4 separate regions of the Homo sapiens genome follow, and all the other regions are linked to region 2. Evidence: fine-mapped expression QTL. A gene starts in region 2. Each other region holds a variant in brackets. All regions are shown on one strand. Distances are from middle to middle.

Region 1 (5,000 bases), 140 kb before region 2:
AACTATTTATGAGACAGATGAGAAGAGAAGTAATCTGACACTGGCTGGGAGAGTGTGATAAAAGCGGGTGAGGAAAGTTGAGGGAAAAGACACAGCCCATTTCAAGACCTTTCACCCAAATGCCACCGTCACAGTTATTCACAGGATCAATTTTTACCTGGTATCATTTTTGTGGCTTGATTTTAGAGTTGGCATGCCCTAGGAAGCCATTAATAAATGACTTCTAAAAGTGTAGGCAACCAGTGCCTTCTCAATGCTACAGGCAGCATGTCAGTCTCATAAAAATGTGGGCAACAGATGATGTCTATCTTTGAATATTCCATATGCTGTGAGCCAAATCACATCTTTTCCCTGAGGAATTTATCTTTTTTTTTTTTTACACCCTCCTAAGGCCTTGGGGGCAAGGAAATGGGACAAAGCACCAGGCAGTAGAAAGGAGAGGGACAGGGATGAAGTATGGCCAGGATGAGTGCGGGGAGGTCAAGTGCAGCTCGGTAGTAGCAAGACTGGCTACATAATCTGTAGGGACATTGTTCAAATATGATTAAGAATTTCAAGACGATAACAATAAGGCATTAACCCAATGCAGGGAAATGATGAACTCGTTTCAAGGTCATATAATTAGGGGAGAAACAGAATTCACATGCTTGGGATGGAAGGCATCCTGCTTGTAGGGTGTCCAGCTCTTTCTGTTTGCACAAGGTGTTTCCAGTTTCAGGGCTGAGAATCCTGCATCCCGGGAAACTGGGACTGTTGGTCAACCTACTAGCTTGAATTTTGGAATCAGAAAGACTTACATTCAGATTCTGGCTCTGCCACTTTCTGGCTGCATTTACCTGTTAATGCCAAAGCCTGTGTCCTTAACCACCACAATATGTCTACATGTTATTACTCAATCGTGCCTCCTTGTGCTCTAGCCCCTGGTGGATGTGTCCTGTGCAACTGTACAGATTGCAAGCCATAAAAGCTGTCCCTAAGCGTTGCTACTCTTTGTCGAGCATTTTCTATGTGCCATGAATAGGTGAATATCTTTGAGGAGAGTGGCACACTTAATCCTCACAACAACTATATTTGATGTCATTATTCCCATTTTTCAAATGAGTAAATTGAGACTCAGTGATGAACTCACTTCAAGGTCATTCAATTAGAGCAGAAATCGTTTATAAAAGCATCAGAGTTCAAAAGGTCCTTAAGAAGAGTATAATTTAAATCTTACAGCTTTGTTAACACCAAAACCAATGTTCTTAACCACCAGGCTATATTTATATGTTACTACTCAATCCTGCCTCCTCGTGCTCTAGCCCCTGGAAGATCAGTTACCGTGAAGGTAGGAAGGGATAGCCCAGGGCAGCCATGACTGGAAGAGATCCACAAAGCTCTCAGCTTGAAGGAGTACCTTTTTCAACATTCCAACAGTTTTCAAAATGCTCTTTTTAAATCCAAGTATGCCCTGGAGAGCTGAACTCTTCTGTCATCAGCACTAGTTAATCTTTGGCTAATACAGCAGTACTCAGGGAATTAAGAGTTTGCAGGCCTTTTGCAAAAGGGCAGGAGATCATTTTGTTGCATGAGACACACAGGGTTGGATAACAGGCATCAGATAATCAAAAGAAGCATGACAGTAATAAAGAGGAATTTGGAAAGGGAGATAAAAGGCACCAGAGATACGCTTGGCTTGCACTGCCATTTGCCTAGGTCTGGGGAGCGGAATACAAGATTAGAACTCATCTTACAGGATGAAATATTCACCTTCTCTGAACTAAGCTCCACAGTGCATCCAGCACCTTCTACTCCAGTTTAGCCCCAGGATATGACCCCTCTTTCAAATACTGCTCCTCCCCCAGAGTGGAAAAGAAAAAGAAATAAGATAATAATGCTGACAACCATGATCATAAGCATGGCTATAGGAAGCCAGTCCCCTATTCTCACCATTTCTCCCTTTTTATTATTTACAAAGCAGCACACACATTTCTCTCTCCCAGGGGTACTGGTATGATCAATCCCCAATCTTTCCAAAAAGCTTAGGTCCACAAAACCTCTGCATAGAGGTAAAATAACAGACAAATCCTAAAACTCGTATGCCAGAAAGGTCTCAACATCACATTGTCAAAGACCTAAAATTCCCTGAGTTTGTATATTATCTGACAGCAGGTCCAGAGAAACTCATCATCTCACAGCTAGTCAGTGGCAGAGCTGGAACTAGAAGCTGCAACTCCTCACTCTCAGTCTATTAACTCTCCACTCTCACCTTACAT[T/A]AAAAGTAAGGTTCAAGGCCAAAAGTCAAAGACAGGAACTTGTAGCCTCTTCAGTATTCATAAAAATATATTTAACTGTGAACTTTCCTTCAAAGGAATTCAGGATCCTTTCACAAACATAGTAATAATTGCCAGTACCTGTTGAGTACACTGTTCTAATAGGTTTGTATATGTTACCACATTTAATCCTCACAGCACCCTATAAGGAAAACACTATTATAATCCCCATTTTAAGATGAAGAAACAGAGGCACATGGAGATTATGTAATTTGTGCAGGTCATCCAGCAAGTAGGTGGCAGTTGGGATTTGAGCCTGGATGGTCTGGTTCCAGAGATGGTGTTCCTAATGACTTATACTGGCTGTCAAAGCTCACCTTTCCAAAAAACAGATTCCTCAATAGTCCACACACATGGAAACATAGATGAGTCATGGAGCTTTAAAGCCAGAAAGAAGCAAACACGTAAAATGACCAGCAGTACAATGAGAGATGTTTGGATATCATAAGGAAAAGGACCAATCCCTACTGGTCTGCGTGTCTCCTTCTGTCTCTTTCTATGCACCGCCATCATCTGTTAGTCTCTGTGTCTCTGAATTTCTCTCTTATCTCTGTTCTGTATCTGTCTACATGATTCTACGTATGTACCTCTCAGTCTATCTGTGCCTCTCCTCACTGGCTCCCCACCCCTCCTCTGACCCCTCTCTCTGCTACTGCTGCCAGTGTCCCCCACACTCCACCCCGTCTTGCTCCATCTCCTTTCCCTCTTCTGGTGCGCTCCTCCCCTGCCTTCATTCTGCCCTCCATTCCCCAGCCCCTTCTCCATGAGAATCACTTGAGAACTTGTTACTTTATTTATTCCTTTTGCAAGACAATAGACACCAATCACAGAAGAAAGAATGCATTCTAGAAAAGTATTTCATTTGTAACACAGTTACAGAAAAACGTGAACAAAGTATGAACCAAAAATAATTAGACACCTTTTGACATCATTATACAATGAGCATATTGGCTATTAAGTGATTACAACGTCCCCTGTGTGAATCTAATTAATAAGTCTTAAAAACTAATCTCAAACATGCACCCAAACAACTGAAATACAACAGCAATCACTAACACAAGGAACCAGCCAGCCATTCCATCCTTTGACAATTGTTGCACTTTAGGGAATAACGCTCCCACTACCAGTGGGGGAGTGGGGGTGGGGGGTGGGGAGAGGAAGAGGGAGGGAGTCAGGTGACCTGCTTGTCTTCTCTTGACTTGCCCTTTCCAGAACAGTCACCATAGGAAGTTTCTAGAGGCCACTGACAGGGTATGAACTAGGGTCAGAATATTTAAAACAAGAGGAGAGCTGGGTGTGGTGGCTCATACCTGTAGTCCCAACTACTCAGGAGGCTGAGGTGGGAGGATCTCTTGAGTCCAAGAGTTCGAGGTTACAGTGAGCTACGATGGTGCCACTGCACCCCAGCCTGGGTGACAGAGCAAGACCCCATCTCTAAAAATAAAAAATGAAATAGAAAAAAAAAGAGTAGAAAAAAGAAACCAGAATGTTCATATGGATTCATCTTTTGAGTAAAGATTAATTTTGTAACTACAGGTAGATACATGAGGATCTAATGATCATTTCTACCTTCACCCCAGCAATAATAAGGTTCACAATCTGTGGCCCTCTGTGTCAACTCCCTTTCTTTAAAAGTATTTTACAGGCAGTGGAAGTACACAGTGTCCTTCAGAAGTTGGATACAGATCAAAATAATTTGTCTGAAAAGAAACACATTCATAAGGGAGCCCAGGCTTTGAAGGAAGACTGATAAGCTACAAAAGCTTTGTGCAGGATGGTCCCCATTTCTGGTGGTCAGTGAAAGCCTCCAGAGACACAGAGAGTTCACAGAAAATGTGGAAGGGGATGGGGGTTGGAATAGAGGAAATCTTCCAAGCTTTCCCAAAACTGTACCCACTTGTGGGTACAACAGGGCAGCAATATTTTAAAGCAAGAATGAAAATTACAAATACTACTGTTACAAGTCAGATTGTGACTCTTGTTTTATCAACACAAACCGAGCCAATTAATGGGGCTACATTCATACTAGAAATCCCAATGAACTCAGTCTCCCAGCCTCTCTGTTTGGCTCCAAAACTGCCCTAGGATTTAAAGCTTCAGAGGATTTATAGTACACACACATGGTTTCTAGCAGAGTCAGGGGCAGTTGCACAGGACACATCCTCTGTGACTTACCAAAAAGGGTTTCCTGATAATGAATACTTCTTCAGTGCCTGGGATGGGAGGCATCCTGCTTGTAGGGTGACCAACTCTTTCTGTTTGTATAAGACGTTTCTAGTTTCAGGGCTGAGAATCCTGCATCCCAGAAAACTGGGACTGTTGGTCAATCTACTAGCTTGAATTTTGGAATCAGAAAGACTTATATTCAGATTCTGGCTCTGCCACTTAAACCTGATAGACTTTTGTTATCTCTAGAGAGTTAGAGATTACAGAATTACAGATGAGCAAACTGAGGTGCCTCATACAAGAGATGCTCAAACAAGAATATTCCTCTGCAGGACTGTTACTGTTGTGTGGATTAAATAAGATACAAATGCAGATAAAGCCCTACCCCAGAACCTAATATGCCTTTGCTAAACACCAGCTCTTCTTATAACTTAACTAATAGCATCTTAGATTTAGTTTCACAAAGTAAGATTAAGTTGCTTCACCTACTGAATTTTTTAATAATTGTTTTTGTCAAAAGAA
Region 2 (5,379 bases):
CCCGAGTAGCTGGGATTACAGCCACGTGCCCCCACGCCCAGCTAATTTTTGTATTTTTAGTAGAGACCGGGTTTCTTCATGTTGGTCAGGCTGGTCTCCAACTCCCGACCTCAGGTGATCCACCTGCCTCGGCCTCCCAAAGTGCTAGGATTACAGGGGTGAGCCACCACGCTCAGCCAAGTCTGTAACACTTTTTAAATATCTTGAGGGAATCTTAAGGGAATATATAGAGGTTTTCATGTGGTCGGTCGCCATTTTGAATTGATCAGAGCAGAACTCTTGTGAGCACTTGAATTTAGAGGAAAGCAGGTGCAGGTATTTATTCTATCCCAGCCTAACTTGACCACTGAAAGGCCCAGAAAAATCATATCGGGCATAATATGTCACTCTCTTGAAAGAGATAGGCAATACTTAATAAAAACAAAAATTCCATTTCAAGATAAAGGTCAAACTCAACTTTTAAAATATACAAACTATTCCTTTTGAGAACCATGAATAGAAACCCAGACACCTTATTTCCACTCTACCCTTCACTCTTTCTCTTGGGCCTAAGTAATTACCTACACTTTCCATTTCCAGACTTAAGGACAACTCCTTATATAAAGTAAAAATCTGCCACCCACTTTAGCCATCCTTATCCCCTGACCAGCCAGGCAAGCCCTGCCCTACACTCATTCTCAGGACCTCTGGAGGCGTCTTCAGAGCCTCTGGCGTTTGCTTGGGGTGTTGGAAAGGTCGCAGCCTCCCAGAACCGGATGTGTCACTCACTCCAGCAAAAGATGCAGACTCCACAGGGTTGGGGAGAGAGAAGAGGATCTGCTGGGATCATGATGAGAGGTGCGTGTGTGTGTGTGTGTGTGTGTGTGTGTGTGTGCGCGCGCGCACACGCGCGTGCGTCTGTGAATAATTTCATACTGTAAATTCTGGTAAAAGATCAGGTTTGTCTGTAATTCAGCAGAAGTAGGGGCTTCCATACAAACCTAGCAACAGCCTCTCTACATCAAGTTTTACCTGCTGAGTTAACAGTCACCAACGGAAGGGCATACACAAATTCCTCCAAAGTATTATTAGCTAAAAGAAACAACAGAGGGGCAAATTCCACACATGGAGATCAACGGGTGCTCAGAACTTCCTCTTGTTGTCAGCGCCGATTAAACATCATCTTTGTGAGCTGTAGGCTGTGTAGTGTGCCAAGAATGGTACAGGAGGGAATATAGGTCACTAGGGCTCAAAACACATCTGTACACAGACGCACATACCTTGTTACAGTATAACATGCTACACACATATACATGCTTAAACGCTAGGTTTTCAGAACACTCTCCCATCCTATTTCAGCTCTGCCATTTTAACCCTCCAGATAATTAAGTTAAACCCCAAGACTTAACCAGCCCCGCCCCCACCACCACCAAAAAAAAAAAAACCTCAAGGTACTCAAACAATGGGTCACCTTGCACAGCGTAACACACACGGGTTCCCTAAGAGATCCCCTATAGGGAGAATCGGTAGGTTAATCATTATTAAAATAAGGCTTTTATCATTAACCCTCTATTTCCTGGCCTGAGTCTGCGTCAGCCCTGTAACCCTTTCGCTCCCAGCTGGCTACACCAAGCCACACCTTGCCAAGCCCAGTCATTTTACCAGACTAGCGCCCACTCCCCCAAGTCTGCGTGTCAGAAGATCACCTCCCGCGGGGCATTTTCAGGAAAGCGCCTGACACGTGCCGGAGACGACCTACTGTGCGCTCGCCACCTGTCCTTCCAATAGGCTTTCCCGGACTTTCCCGAGTTTGGGGCAGTGGGCTGGGAGCTGTAAAGGGCTCCCCTCGCTTGCAGAACTCCCAAGTCTAAGATGGCCCGCCCCCTTCTTTCGCCAACCTGGATCCCCGCTTCCGGGCAAGAGGAGGTGCCCAGGGCTCACAGTCGAGACCCTCCTCCCACCCACCTCCCGAGGACTCCCGATTCCTCCCCGAAGCCTTCCCTCTCTGCACTTGGCTCTACAGGCGGTCGGATGGGAACAAACTTCCCGGCACCCCCAGTGACCCTGCCCAACACCACTCTGCCCTAAGGGGCGCCAAGACTTCTCGAGACCTGCGGGAAAGCAGAGGTGGGAAGGGAGAGAGAGGTGAGGAGTACGCAGAGGAAGGTGGAAAACCAACAACCGCGTGAATCTTACCTATCAACTCCCTGGGAACGTCAGAGCTCTCCTCGGTCATGGTTGCCCTGTAGGTGTGGGGGTTATTGCAGGTCCAACTCTGATTTATGGCCCCCTGCCCTTCCCCGAACTCCTCAATTTTTTTAGAGAGGCAGATGCAGCTTGCAAATGGAAGTGGGCAAGAAAAGGGGGGGCGGAGACAGAATTTTGCCGCGCGCCCCCCGCCCCACCAAAAAAAAAAAAAAGAGTTGCAAATGCGAGGCGGATTTGCTGCTGCTGCTACATGACGCCTCCTCGCAGTTCCCGGCGGCTGAATAAGGAGCGGACCGGATTACAAGCGGGCGCGGGGCGCGGGGCGGCTGTGGCGCCTGCTCCTCCTCCCGGCTCGCTGGTCCCCGGCGGGGCTTGGGCCGGCGTAGCTCCCGCCCAGCCTCCGCGCCGCACCTACAGCCCTAGGTGAAAGCGGAAGGCGTGGGAGAGGGCGGGGAGAGCGGCGCGGGGCGGGGGGAGTAGGTTTTCCTCGCGCTCCTGCCGGGCTCCGGCTGGGCGGGGGCAGCTCCGGCCCTCCTCCTTCTCCTCCTTCTCCTTCTCCTCTTCCTCCTGCGTTTCCTCCTCACCTCGCGAGAGCCGGCCTCCGCACCGGTGCGAGGCCGGCCTCCGGTGCCCGAGCGCTGGGTCCCCGGCGTAGGTCGCACCCCCAGGAGAGACGCTGTGCGGTGCTGCGGTGGCGGCGGCGGGCACCGCGCCCCTCCTCGCAGCCTCCCTCCCAAACCGCAAAAGCCCTGCGTCTGGAGAGGGGGCGAGCGGGCTCGCGAGAGAGCCCGGGAGCCATCTGCTGGCTGCGAGGGAGGAGAGCCGGGTGAGCCGGGCTTTCCATTTCCTTGTCCCCACTCCGGGCGGGCCAGGGGACCCAGAAGACGGGAGACGGCAGATTCTGCAGACCCGTCTACACGGAAGCTGGTTCTTTTTGGGACCCTCTTACGCACTTTTTCTTTTTCAACCCTCCCGGTGACATGTCACTTCATCATCGCTATTCTTCATTTCTGATGAGCTAGACGAAACCTGTGAACACTAATCATACCGTGAGAAGACACTTGTGTGTGTGCGTTCAGCTGGTGCTCTGCAGCCGCAGTTCGCTATCTCAGACATTCCCGTTGAGAGCGCCTTGGAAAATGCCTTTCACTCGGAAAAGTCTCTTTTATCCTCGGGGCATATTCAGGAAGCTGAGCTTTAATCACTGGAGCCTATGTAAGCCTGCGGATAGGTCTGATCCTACCTGGGCCCAAACTCCCTATGACTTCCCTGAGCTCCATCCCCAGAGGTTCAACTTCAGGGCCAAGAATACTTTGTGCCTCAATCGCTGCTTTTTAGCCTAGGGCTGGGAATGTCCCAGACTGTCTAATCAGGTTCTGCTTTTAAAGGACAGAAAAGGAGGAAAGGAAAGGGAATCCATGCACTTGGCAATCTAATTTTAAACACTGCTGTTGACCTTGGACCCCTTAGAATCATCTTCAGCCCCACAGCCAGGCCTTACCACTAAGGATTTGCCAACCTGGCCCCTTCCCACCCTCCTTAACCTCTCCCACTCCCTTCTCTATTACAACCAGACTCACTGTTTGCTTCCTCCTTCCTCTTAAGGTTATCTGATTCTTATCTATGTTTTCAAACCCATCCCAATGGTCTACCTTCTTTGTGAATATTTTCCAGGGATTTTCAGATTACTGTGATCCCTAAGCCTCTACAATATGTATTGCCTGAAACACTTTTCTAAACCCAACCATATGGTGTCGTGTTTCATTGCTTGTGTATTTGTCTGGTTTTACTATCTAACTCTTGCATTGTCCCCTGAGTTTGGATTTTTTCTGCCCAACTAGACTGTAGGTGAGTTGAAAGTGGGAATTTATCTTAGACTTTTGAACTTCTTCAACAGCCTAGTTCAAAATAGGTGTTCAATAAACATTTGTTAACTGATTTTAGAGCTTTGGACCTCAGGCCTCCAACCATTTGTTTCAAAAGTGGGCAATTTCTTTAAGCTAGACATTTCCTTAATGCATTAAATATATTTTTTCTGCAGTAAATGGAAATTAACATCTCAAACTGTCTTTCATTCAACCTGGTGTGTTAAAGAGGACTTTTCTGGCACATACCAATGAAGTTTCAGAAATGCCCTGAAGTTTCCAAACCATGTGATAACTTGTGAAAATAAGAACAAAAGTTTGTCTTTTTTTTTTTTTTCCTGTGGCCTGGGTGATGGAAAGAATAAAGGGAAGGCTGTATGGCAGTTCTGTAATTCAGTACTCTTTGGCTTCTTTTAAAGGAAGCTGGGGTTTCAATAAAAGAATCATTTTCACTGCAACAGGATCCTGATTGGCTCCTGCATCTCTGAAGAAGTGAATTCAAATGAATCTCCTATCACAACACTGAAAAATGACTGACTGATTTTGGAAATCAAAGTCATTTACTTCTCGGTTGCAAAACTCAAATATGTTTCAGAATAGCAAGCAGAGAACTCCAAGGAGCACTGTTTATAAAGCTGCAAACCCAACAAGCAGTAAACATCCCTAGCACCGTAAAACCATGGTGCCAGCTTGGAGAATGCAGTTTGCATTCTGAAATGTGTGCTTGTTTACTGAATCGGCCTGCCCCTTCTACTGCTACTGCTGCAAAAACAAACTTTTCTCACTCCATCACTCCAACTTCCTCAAATTCATCCCTGTTTATATAGTCTTGAATACACGAGTGATCAAACCACTACATGAAACTGATTGTGTTACATATGTGATTAGCCATAGCTTCATCTAAGTAAGTATTTACATGTGGCTGTGTTTAAGCCATACAACTAGTACTGATAATCTGAAAGCTGTTAGTAAGATAAAACTTTTTCAGAGAATCCCTACTGCATTTGAATCTGTAAAATGTTTAACATTTAACATATAGTGAGTGGCAACATTATTTTGAAAAGGAAGATGGAGAAGAGTGTAATTTGAAAAGCATGGCAAGGCCAGGTGCAGTGGCTCACATTTGTAATTCCAAATGCTTTGGGATGCCGAAGTGGGTGGATTGCTTGAGCCCAGGAGTTTGGGACAGACCAGACTGAGCAACATAGTGAAACCCCATCTCTTTTGAAACATACAGTGAGTGGCAACATTATTTTGAAAACTTATCCATGGATTTTTATTTTTAATTCTAAGCATATATTCACATCTATATAGTACATTTTGTAAT
Region 3 (5,000 bases), 130 kb before region 2:
GGAAATCTACGTACTCTAACACCTGTGCAAATCCATTTATTTTCACCTAATTCATTCCTTTTCACATTATGTAGAAATGGAATGTTTACATACAGCATGCCAGACACAATCACTTCATTCTTTCCAAAGTCACACTATTGCAAGTTGTAAGGTGTTATCAAAGCATAAAAGAAACAAACATGTCTAATGTTCGCCCACAGGTGAACACAGGGGCCAGTACATATCAGATCCTCTTTTCAAAGCACCCGCTGATACAGAAGTCTGGAATCTCCCATAGTGATTCTGTTAGAACAATGTATTTTAAAGTCAGAGTAATGATAGGTCTTCTTTAATGACAGTACTTTAGCAGTGACACACTAACATGAATGGGCATCTTTAAGTGGTGGCAGGATGGTAATTCTTAGCATGAGGCCAAGGGTGAAGATGAGTGAAGTATCCAGCTCCAGGCCCACAGGGTCCATGAGGATTTTGTGTTAAGAACTCACATGTGGCAGAACTCCTACCCAGGCCCTCAACTATTGGGTGAGCAGACAGCAGGGGACTCACAGGTCTGCATAGGGCATGTGTGCTAAGAGACCTCATCTAGTCATCACTGTCATATTTATGTTTTAAATAAATTCACAAGTAATAGAGTCACAGTTATTCAGGGAATACAGAAAAAATATAACTATAAAGTTCATATTAACCTAATTAATTACTAAAACTTCTGCTTCCCCAACACAGGGCCAGCCAGCCTCTTTTAGAACACATCCATTTGAGAATCACTAGAACCCAATTCTAGCTAAAGATGAGAGAGTTAAGAGGGGTCAGGGGATATGTGTGCCCTTTTCCTTTATTTTACAGATGAGGAAACAGATCAGGAAGAGTTAAATTATTCCTCTGTGCCTATTAGGGCTTATTCTTAGTTTCAAGCAACAGAATTTTAAGAATAAATAAATTTACTTAAAGGAAATTGAGTAGTTCTTGTAATCAAAAGAACAACCAGAACTCAGTAGAGACAGAAACCAAATCAACTCTAAAGATGGGAGAAGCAGGGACTAATAAGGAGTTCCTCTGGCTGCCCTCGTGGAACAAATTGACTCCAATCTTCCACCCTAGCATGTTCCCTCTCAAGATTCAAAGCCTAGGGCGCAAAAGTCCCCTCCTGGGCCTGGCACCAAATAAAGACCACACAGAATTACTCAAAAGTTGAGACAAGTGGCAGCTATGGCCTAGTGACAACGAGCACTGGCTCCAGGGAGTCTGCTAGACCACTCTCTACCAACCATGCAATCTTGGGCAGGTAACTCAGCCTCCCATACCTCTGTCTCCTCACCTGAGATAATACATGCAAAACACAAGTACCTGGCACATGAAGGAGTCCAATAAATGCTAAATGGAAGAGTTGGAACAAGAAATCAGTTTCACTTTTCTTTTACTGTAAGTCTATTGCCGCAGTCCCTCCCCAGCCTACATCATTTCAACTTGTCTGTGTTTCTTGGCCTTACATTCTCATCTTCTCAAGCCAAGGAAACACAAATGTCACTTCTTTCTCCCTCCCTTGTTATATTAGCATTTTCATCAAATGAAAAAAATACATATTTTCTTTCCTTCTCTCAGAACAAAGTTATAAGATAGTTTCCCACTTTGCAGAAAGGTGGTTGCCATATGGCGGCGGGGGGCGGGGGGGGTTGATTTAGATTTAACACCATTACATATATAATCAGAGAAATAGTCTTCATTAAATTCAGAGAATAAAAAATAAGGAAAGAAGGAGAATATAAGATTTGGGGTAATCCTATCAAGAAATTAAGGTAGGTATATAATTTACAGCGGTGCTTCTCAAACTGAGGGCTACAACCCATTGGTGGGTAGTTAAATCAATTCATCAGAGTTTAATGAGCATATTAATATGACAGACTAAACCAAAGTGAAAAGGAAAAGAAAGCCAAGGCACAGCAAGTAGAAAACATGAGCATTATTTCACAAAACTTGTTTGAGTGATGTCAGTATATACATGGTACTCGCATGCAAATGTGTGTGTGTGTGCACAATTCTCGAAATCAATATAAAATGCATGTTTTACTCTGGATCCAGGTTTTGAAAGTTTGATAAATACTAGCATACGGTACCATATGCACCTGTAAGCGGGATCCACCATGAGGCTATAGATGAGGATGAGGCAGCTGGTAAGATGGCAAGAACATGAGCTTTAGAGTCAGACACACTTCAGGCGAAATCTCAGCTTTGCCATTTTGTGGACTGAGAGGTATTAGGCATGTTGCTTGAAATCTCCAGGCCTCAGCTTTTTCACTTCTAAATTGGAGACAATCTGTATCCTAGTTTAAGTACTAGAGATAACCTATCAAGTGCTGAGCATACAGTAGATACTAATATAAAAGGAGCCATAATAATTGTCCTCAAACTTATAGAATATAGCTCTGAAAATGATCCACAGGGACAAAGGTGTGAGACCTACAGAGACAGTGTGCAAACTTGCTAGTTAGAAACAGAGCTGAGCCCAGAAGCCCAGTCTCCTGGTCTCAGCCTTATTCGTAACACATCATCTTCAGCATGTGGCTTGAGTCAGAGCAAGGGGGAGAATACTCCCATGGTAACTATAACCTATTTAAGAATTAGAAGAGAATTTCCATTTCTATATGGTGATGGGATAAACTTTG[A/G]TATAAAGGAAGAATGGGCTTTGAATCCAGACCAATTTAGATCAAATTACCAACTCCTCCATTTATCAACTACCTAACCTCCTAAATTTTATTTTTCTTACCTGTAGAATCAGTATGAAATAGACTCTGTTGGACAGTTGTGGGGATTAAAGGGGTAACATGTAAAAAGCCTACAAGTACTGTGCCTAGCACTCTCCTAGATATGCTGAACTTCATTCATAGGTGAGGCTAATACCTGGCTCAAAATCTTTTTTTTTTTTTTTCTATTTTATGTAGAGACAGGGTCTCACTACATTGCCCAGGCCGGTCTTAACTCCTGGGATCAAATGATCCTCCCACCTCACACTTTCTATACAGCCCCAACTTCTCTCATCAGGGGACAATACAGCATCCAATCATGCAGAGCACTAGGCTTTGAAACTGTACCACCCCAGTTTGAATTCTGGTCCCACCACTTACAAGCACGAATGATTTTGAGAAAGACCTCTGTGTGCCTTACTTTCCTCATCTGTAAAATATGGGATCACAATATATACCTCACTGGAGGTTGTCATAAGGATTAAAGAAGGTAATACACACAAGGTGCTTAGAAAAGTGTTGGCGATAGTCAGTGTAAATCATTGCATCCCTAAAGATATGATGATCAGGAAGCCTTTGAATTCTTCGGCCTTCTTGTTCACTCTGTCATATCCTGGGCCATGTTAGTTACTGCTTGAGATTATACCATGTCAAACGATTTCTAATTCAGGCATCCCACTCTCTGCCCGAAATCTTTTTTTTTTTTTTTTTTTTTTATTTTAAGAGACAGGCTTTTACTGTCACCCGGGCTGGAGTGCAGTGGTGCAATCTCGGCTCACTGCAGCCTTGACCTCCCAGGCTCAGGTGATCCTCCTGCCTCAGCTTTTCAAGTAGCTACTACAGGCACAAGCCACCACACCCAGGTAATTTTTAAACTTTTTGTAGAGATGACGTCTATGTTGCCCAGGCTGGTCTCAAACTCCTCAGCTCAAGTGATCCTCCCACCTGGGCCTCACAAAGTGTTTGGATTATAGTCATGCACCACCACACCTGGCCCTCACAGTGTGATCCACGGGCCAGAGAGGCTGGCGTGACAGGAACTTGTTAGAAATGCAGAATCTGAGGCCTCAGCCCAGACCTGCTGAATCAGAATCTGCGTTTTTACTAAAATCCCCAGGTGATTCACATTAGCATTACAGTTGGAGAAGCACTCATAGCTAGTTCCCTTATTCAGGTACTACCACTACCCTGTTTATTGCCCCCTGACACTGCCAGGTCATTCTCCATCAGCACTAACCTATCTTCATCCAACTGAACCTCCACTGAAATCATTCCTCCATGTGTTAATGTCCTTAGCCTTCGTGTTCCTTGTCCTTTTATTACTCCCACAGAGTAAAACTTCAATCTTGGCTGAACTTACCTAGCCGCCTATTCCATGCTTGCAGTGGTAGCTGCCAAGCACAGCTGGAGAACTGATCTTACCCAGCAACCTGATTCCGTTCCCTTCATCTGGGAAGATGACTTTCCCTCCTACTTCACAGAGAAAACAGAAATTATCAGAATGGTATCACTTACCATTCCACTCCAAACCTCCACACCTGCCTGCATCTGCAGCTGTACCCACCCCCTCCTCTTCCTCTCCTTCTGAAGTGCTGGAGATAAATGCCCGTCCCTTCGTGTGGGCTCTGGGTTACATCCCACCTGTCTTTGCAGGAACCTTAAGCAACTAAATATCCTTTCTCTTCCATCTCTAAATATCCAAACATAGAGATGTTTAGACCTAGAGCTATATGCCTGGATCCTACACACCTCTTGCAGGTCCCCTCTAACTGTCTCTACCCTTTGAGCCCAACTTCTCAAAAAAGGTACCCATACTCAGTGTCTTCATATTCCTGCCTCCAATTCACTCATCTAGTGTTCAAAATTGGCTTCTGTCCCCACAACTCCACTTAAATTTCTCCTGCTTGAGGTGCCAATCTTGATTGCTAAATCCAACCTCACGGCTGCTAAATCCATGCACTTCCTAACCAGATTTCTCCTTAGCACTGGGCATGGCCCTTCATGCTTGATGTTCTCGTTTCCATACATTTTCAACTGGCCTCTGTGGTTATTCCTAGTCACATGTCCAATCCCCATTCCCTGCTACCATTCATTCTCTCTCATGACTTCAGTCCATCCCAGATGACTCCCAACTTTATGCACAGCCCAGATCTCCCCTCCGATCATCAGATCTATTGATCTAACTTCACTTGTATGTACTCCAACCCTTAAATTCAGCATGTCAACAACTAAACCATGATCTTTCTTTCAAAATCTGCCCTT
Region 4 (5,000 bases), 27 kb before region 2:
TCACGCCTGTAATCCCAGCACTTTGGGAGGCCAAGGCAGGTGGATCACAAGGTCAGGAGTTCGAGACCAGCCTGGCCAACAAGGTGAAACCCCATCTCTATGAAAAATACAAAAAATTAACCAGGTGTGGTGGCACGCGCCTGTAGTCCCTGCTACTCGGGAGGCTGAGGCAGGAGAATCACTTGAATCTGGGAGTCAGAGGTTGCAGTAAGCCGAGATCGTGCCACTGCACTCCAGTCTGGGTGACAAAGGGAGACTCCATCTCAAAAAAAAAAAAAAAAAAAAAATGGTTGTACAATAGTCCTTCTCACGGAACCTCACATGAAATTCTATTAATAAGAGCTTTCTCAGGCACAGTGACAAAGGGGTGTTGTTGGAAACTGTGTTGCTCAAAGTTTTATCATACTCCACAGCTGACTACAAACTGATATTTTAAGCTTAATTCCTGCACAGAAAGTTTCAGCTCAGCTATAGACAACAGCAAGCCACCAAAAGAGACAAGAAATAAGGGCTAAGAGAAACTAAAAACACAAAAGCAATGCACTGTTATGTTTGTTAATAAAAGTAGAACTTTATATCCATGTGAAATATGTAGCCTAATCTGCACACAGCCATTTTTTAGCCTAAGCATAACTGGATGGCTACCTTGTTTAAAGTCTTATCAGTGCCATTTGAATGCCAACATCCACAGCCACCTGCCGTAACAACACTTGCTTGCTATAAATAAGTAGATAACATTCTCTCCCAAGAGGTAAAAATTCTGGTTATCTATTAAAAGCAAAACCAATAACCAAAATAACCCATCTTTTAGCTATCCCTCATTTATCAAAAAAGAGGCTTACACTTCAGATTTAGATGCCTGCAGAGTGGTCCCCCAAAAAAGCAGTATCTAAACAAAATAAAGACTAACACGGCACAGAACTACTCTAACAATAGCGATTCTCTTCCCACAATATTTCAGATCCCAGTGGAAGCCTTTCCCCAATGTCTAAATACATCTCTGTTTACTTCCTACATCTAACATTTATTTTTAACAGTGGGAATACTTTTCATTCCATAACCAAGAGAAATTAACAAATAATGTCAGATCTTAACTTTAGCAAAACAAAACCTGGAAATAATTCCAATGTGCTTCTTGTAAATGGATCTCTTTTTTAAAAATAATACTTTAGAATATGTTGCACATCTAATCAATTTATCAACAAACATTTATTGAGTACAAGGTACAAAAAAGGTGGACAAAGATGGAGAACTGCAGATCAGGTCAAGGAATTTCTAATAGAGTAGGAAACACACACAGGTATCCAAACAACAGACATTCAGGAAACACGAATAATAAGTTCCATGACATAATGTAAGTATATAAAGTGCTAACAAATACAGTCTGTTCACTTTTCTAATTTAAAGTTCCAAAAGGCTGATAAATATTTGTAAACACTCTTACAAGCACAGGTATTACTGCCCAGTTTCAAAAGGACCAGGGCGACCGGGCGCGGTGGCTCACAGCTGTAATCCCAGCACTTTGGGAGACCAAGGCAGGCGGATCACCTGAGGTCAGGAGTTCGAGACCAGCCTGGCCAACATGGTGAAAACCTGTCTCTACTAAAAATACAAAAAAATTAGCCAGGCGTGGTGGCAGGCGCCTGTAAGCCAAGCTACTCCAGAGGCTGAGGCAGGAGAATCACTTGAACTGGGGAGGCAGAGGTTGCAGTGAGCCGAGATCGTGCCAGTGCATTCCAGCCCAGGCGACAAGAATGAGACTCGTCAAAAAAAAAAAAAAAAAAAGCCAAGGCACTGCAGGAAACAGGTGGTTAAACACAGAACTGCCATATGATCCAGTAATTCCACTCCTAGGTATATACTCAAAAGAACTGAAAGAAGGAACTCAGATACAGCAATGTTCAGCCATACAGTAATGTTCACAATAGTATTCACAGTAGCCAAAAAATAAAAACAATTCAAAGGTCCATTGAAGTATGAATGACTTTTTTAAAAATTGGTATATGCATACAACAGAATATTATTCAGCATTAAAAAGGAATGAACTTCTAGCACATGCTACAACATAGAGGAAACTTGAAAACATATGCTAAGTCAGCAGTCCCCAACCTTGTTGGCACCAAGGACTGGTTTCCTGGAAGACAACTTTTCAATAAAAGTGGGGGGGAGGAGAGATGGTTTCAGGATGAAAAAGTTCCACCTCAGATCATCGAGCATCAACTAGATTCTCATATGGAGCACACAGCCTACATCTCTTGAATGCACAGTTCACAACAGGGTTCTCGTAACTATGAGAATCTAATGCCACCGCTGATCTGACAGGAGGTAGAACTCAGGCGGTAATGCTCACTTACCTGCCGCTCACCTCCTGCTGTGTGACCCAGGTTCCTAAAAGGTCATGGAACAGTACCTATCCGCAGCCCTGGGGTTGGGGACCCTTCTGCTAAATGACACAAGCCAGACACAAAAGGCCACGTATTATATAATTGATTTATATAAAACATGCCAAATAGGGATATTTTCTGTTTCTATGGAAACAGAAAGTAGATTAGTGATTGTCAGGGGCGATGGGGAGGTGGAATGAGGACTCAGTGTTTGATACAGTTTCTGTTTGGGATGAAAAAGTTCTGGAAATGGATACGTTGCATAACATTGAGAATATACTTCATGCC[G/A]CTGAACATATATTTATTAATAGTGGTTAAAATGGTAAATTTTATGTTATGTATACTTAATGGCAATTATTTTAAAATGAAAAAAAGGATATTTTTAATGTCTGAGGCATATATTGGCTTGATGAACATGTCTTCAGTGGTAGAGACAGGCACAGGCCTCACTTTCCCCACCAGGCAGCCCTTAGGCTGGTAACCTATATATCAGCTACATATTTATAAAGGATGTCAGTTCTCTCCCAGTCCCCATAAGAGAAATGTTGTATTGCTTCATTTTGTGCACCATTAGCTAGCAGGGACCACTTACAAAAAACTTCAGAAGAAGAAATTATCAATAGTTTCCGTGTGATGAAACTCACTAAAATTTAAGGGTCTAAAAGCCATGGATGAGACAACAATTCTTAGAGCCGCAGACCATATTAGAGAAGGAAGAGTGTGAATTAACTGCCTCCTCAACTTGCTATTTGTTTTATCTGCTCAGCAATATCCATGTCAGTGCAATGACAGTATTTACAGGAAAACTTTACAATTCACCTGAAAGACAAACTAAAAAACCCGTGGATTGTCTTACCTTTTGAAACCCAAAGAAAGGAGGACTCTGAAAGGAGAAAACTCTTCATGTATTATTAACTGAAATAGCCATGCCCTTTTCTCCTAAAATTCTAAAAGCTCTACTTCCCACTTACTCTCACAATATTCCTGGAAAAAGGCTTTTTCAGCCCCACACTATTAACTAAAATTGCAGACCTAAGAACCTTTTAAAGTATTAGCACTAACCCTCAGGACTCCTGATTCTCAAGTTCCTAAAATTAGAATGGCTCTTTAAATGCCCGTGTATCTGCCCCCAAAGAGACAAGCAAACAAAGTCCAATGTCTTCTGCCACCAGGACAGCAGGAAGATAATTCTTCTCACAGTTATATTCAGAAATGCCAAAATCAAACCTTGCTAAACATGTTCAGAAAAGCTTCACATATCTCTACTGGAACTAAAAAGTAACAAACCCAGCCAGCAGCCAAAGGGACAGACCTCCTAATTGGATTTTAACCTCATCAAAATGATATCATGTACTCAATCCTAGGACATAGAACCAATCCAAACAGTCACTGAGGGACTCAACTATCCTTACCAAATGCTCTGCCTCATAATAGAAGTTTTAAGTTCTTGACAGTAAAACTGTGACATTCAATAAGCTCTAGCTAATACATCATTTGATATATGAGCAGGGAACATTGTAAATTTCAGAATCTTAGACCAAAGGAAGTATTTTCCTACTTGAATGTTCTATAGCAGGTGTCCCCAACCCCTGGGCTGTGGACCAGTACCAGTCTGTGGCCTGTTAGGAACCAGACCGCACAGCAGGAGGTGAGCGGCAGGTGACCAAACATTACCACCTGAGTTCTGCCTCCTGTCAGATCAGCCAAGGCATTTGATTCTCATAGGAGCGTGAACCCTACTGTGAACTGCACATGCGAGGGAAGCAGGCTGCACACTCCTTATGAGAATCTAATGCCTGATGATCTGAGGTGGAACAGTTTATCCCAAAACCATCCCCCTACCCACTCGGTCTGTGGAAAAATTGTCTTCCACAAAACTACTCCCTGGTACCAAAAAGGTTGGGGACGGCTGTTCTATAGGACATCCTAGTTAAGAGGGCAAGCAATCTATACTTGAACTTACCCAGCTGCAAGGAATTCAATTCCCCATCCTCTATCCCCACCCTCACAATAAGCACATTCTATGAGTGGACAGCTCTGTTAGGAAGATTATTCTGCGTTTCAAGCCAATCCTCAGCACCTGTAATTTTTATCAATTGTCCCAGTTCAGAACCATAGGTAATAAATCTACGTCTTCTTTTCTGTGATGTCCCCTCCCATGTGTGAGCACAGCTCAGCACCTGTGGGGGCAGCAGGCTCATAATATAAACTGCACACAATCAACAAGTGTAAATGATTTAAGGAAACTTTCCCAACCCCATTTCACAAGACTTTTAAAGCAGAGTGATCTGAAATTACCTTAAACATTTATAATGAGGAGACTAATCTTATCTGATTTGTTCTTCTCAAGTCAAACCCAATGATGAAGTTCCCTGGACAAAGGACTTCTCTGACTTTATTCCAGTCCATTCCCAAGTCACCAGCTTCTTCCTTTAAAACTTACGTGTCCTTTACAAACAGATAGTGCTGAATGATTGTTAAATGGAATGTTTTAGTAATCTTCCTAAAAGTAGGTTGGGTGATTATGTGTTGTTCACCCGTTATTTAACATATATTTCTCCAGTTGGCTAATTTGTACAGCGTTAAAGCAGATATGGCAAATTCTAAAACAGAGTC

Evidence for each region. PIP is the estimated chance that this variant, and not a neighbour inherited with it, causes the effect.
Region 1: its variant is the best candidate, but not a certain one, in a credible set for the expression of CARMIL1 in esophagus muscle (GTEx, PIP 0.88).
Region 3: its variant is the best candidate, but not a certain one, in a credible set for the expression of CARMIL1 in whole blood (Lepik 2017, PIP 0.60).
Region 4: its variant is the best candidate, but not a certain one, in a credible set for the expression of CARMIL1 in tibial artery (GTEx, PIP 0.54).

Annotation. Positions count from the first base shown.
Region 1 is chr6:25,413,928-25,418,927 of GRCh38, reverse strand. All of the region lies in intron 2 of CARMIL1 (capping protein regulator and myosin 1 linker 1), which reads right to left. The region is part of intron 1 of LOC124901281 (a long non-coding RNA gene); the gene reads left to right. Among named protein-coding and RNA genes, the nearest start is that of CARMIL1, 140 kb to the right of the region's middle. The variant T/A (reference allele first, on the strand shown) is at 2,256.
Region 2 is chr6:25,276,632-25,282,010 of GRCh38, reverse strand. CARMIL1 (capping protein regulator and myosin 1 linker 1) reads right to left here and starts at 2,637. Exons shown (of 37, transcript NM_017640.6): 1 at 2,176-2,637. The coding sequence starts at 2,215. RefSeq lists a silencer at 2,440-2,909.
Region 3 is chr6:25,406,747-25,411,746 of GRCh38, reverse strand. The region is part of intron 2 of CARMIL1 (capping protein regulator and myosin 1 linker 1); the gene reads right to left. All of the region lies in intron 1 of LOC124901281 (a long non-coding RNA gene), which reads left to right. Among named protein-coding and RNA genes, the nearest start is that of CARMIL1, 130 kb to the right of the region's middle. The variant A/G (reference allele first, on the strand shown) is at 2,661.
Region 4 is chr6:25,303,665-25,308,664 of GRCh38, reverse strand. The region is part of intron 2 of CARMIL1 (capping protein regulator and myosin 1 linker 1); the gene reads right to left. Among named protein-coding and RNA genes, the nearest start is that of CARMIL1, 27 kb to the right of the region's middle. The variant G/A (reference allele first, on the strand shown) is at 2,673.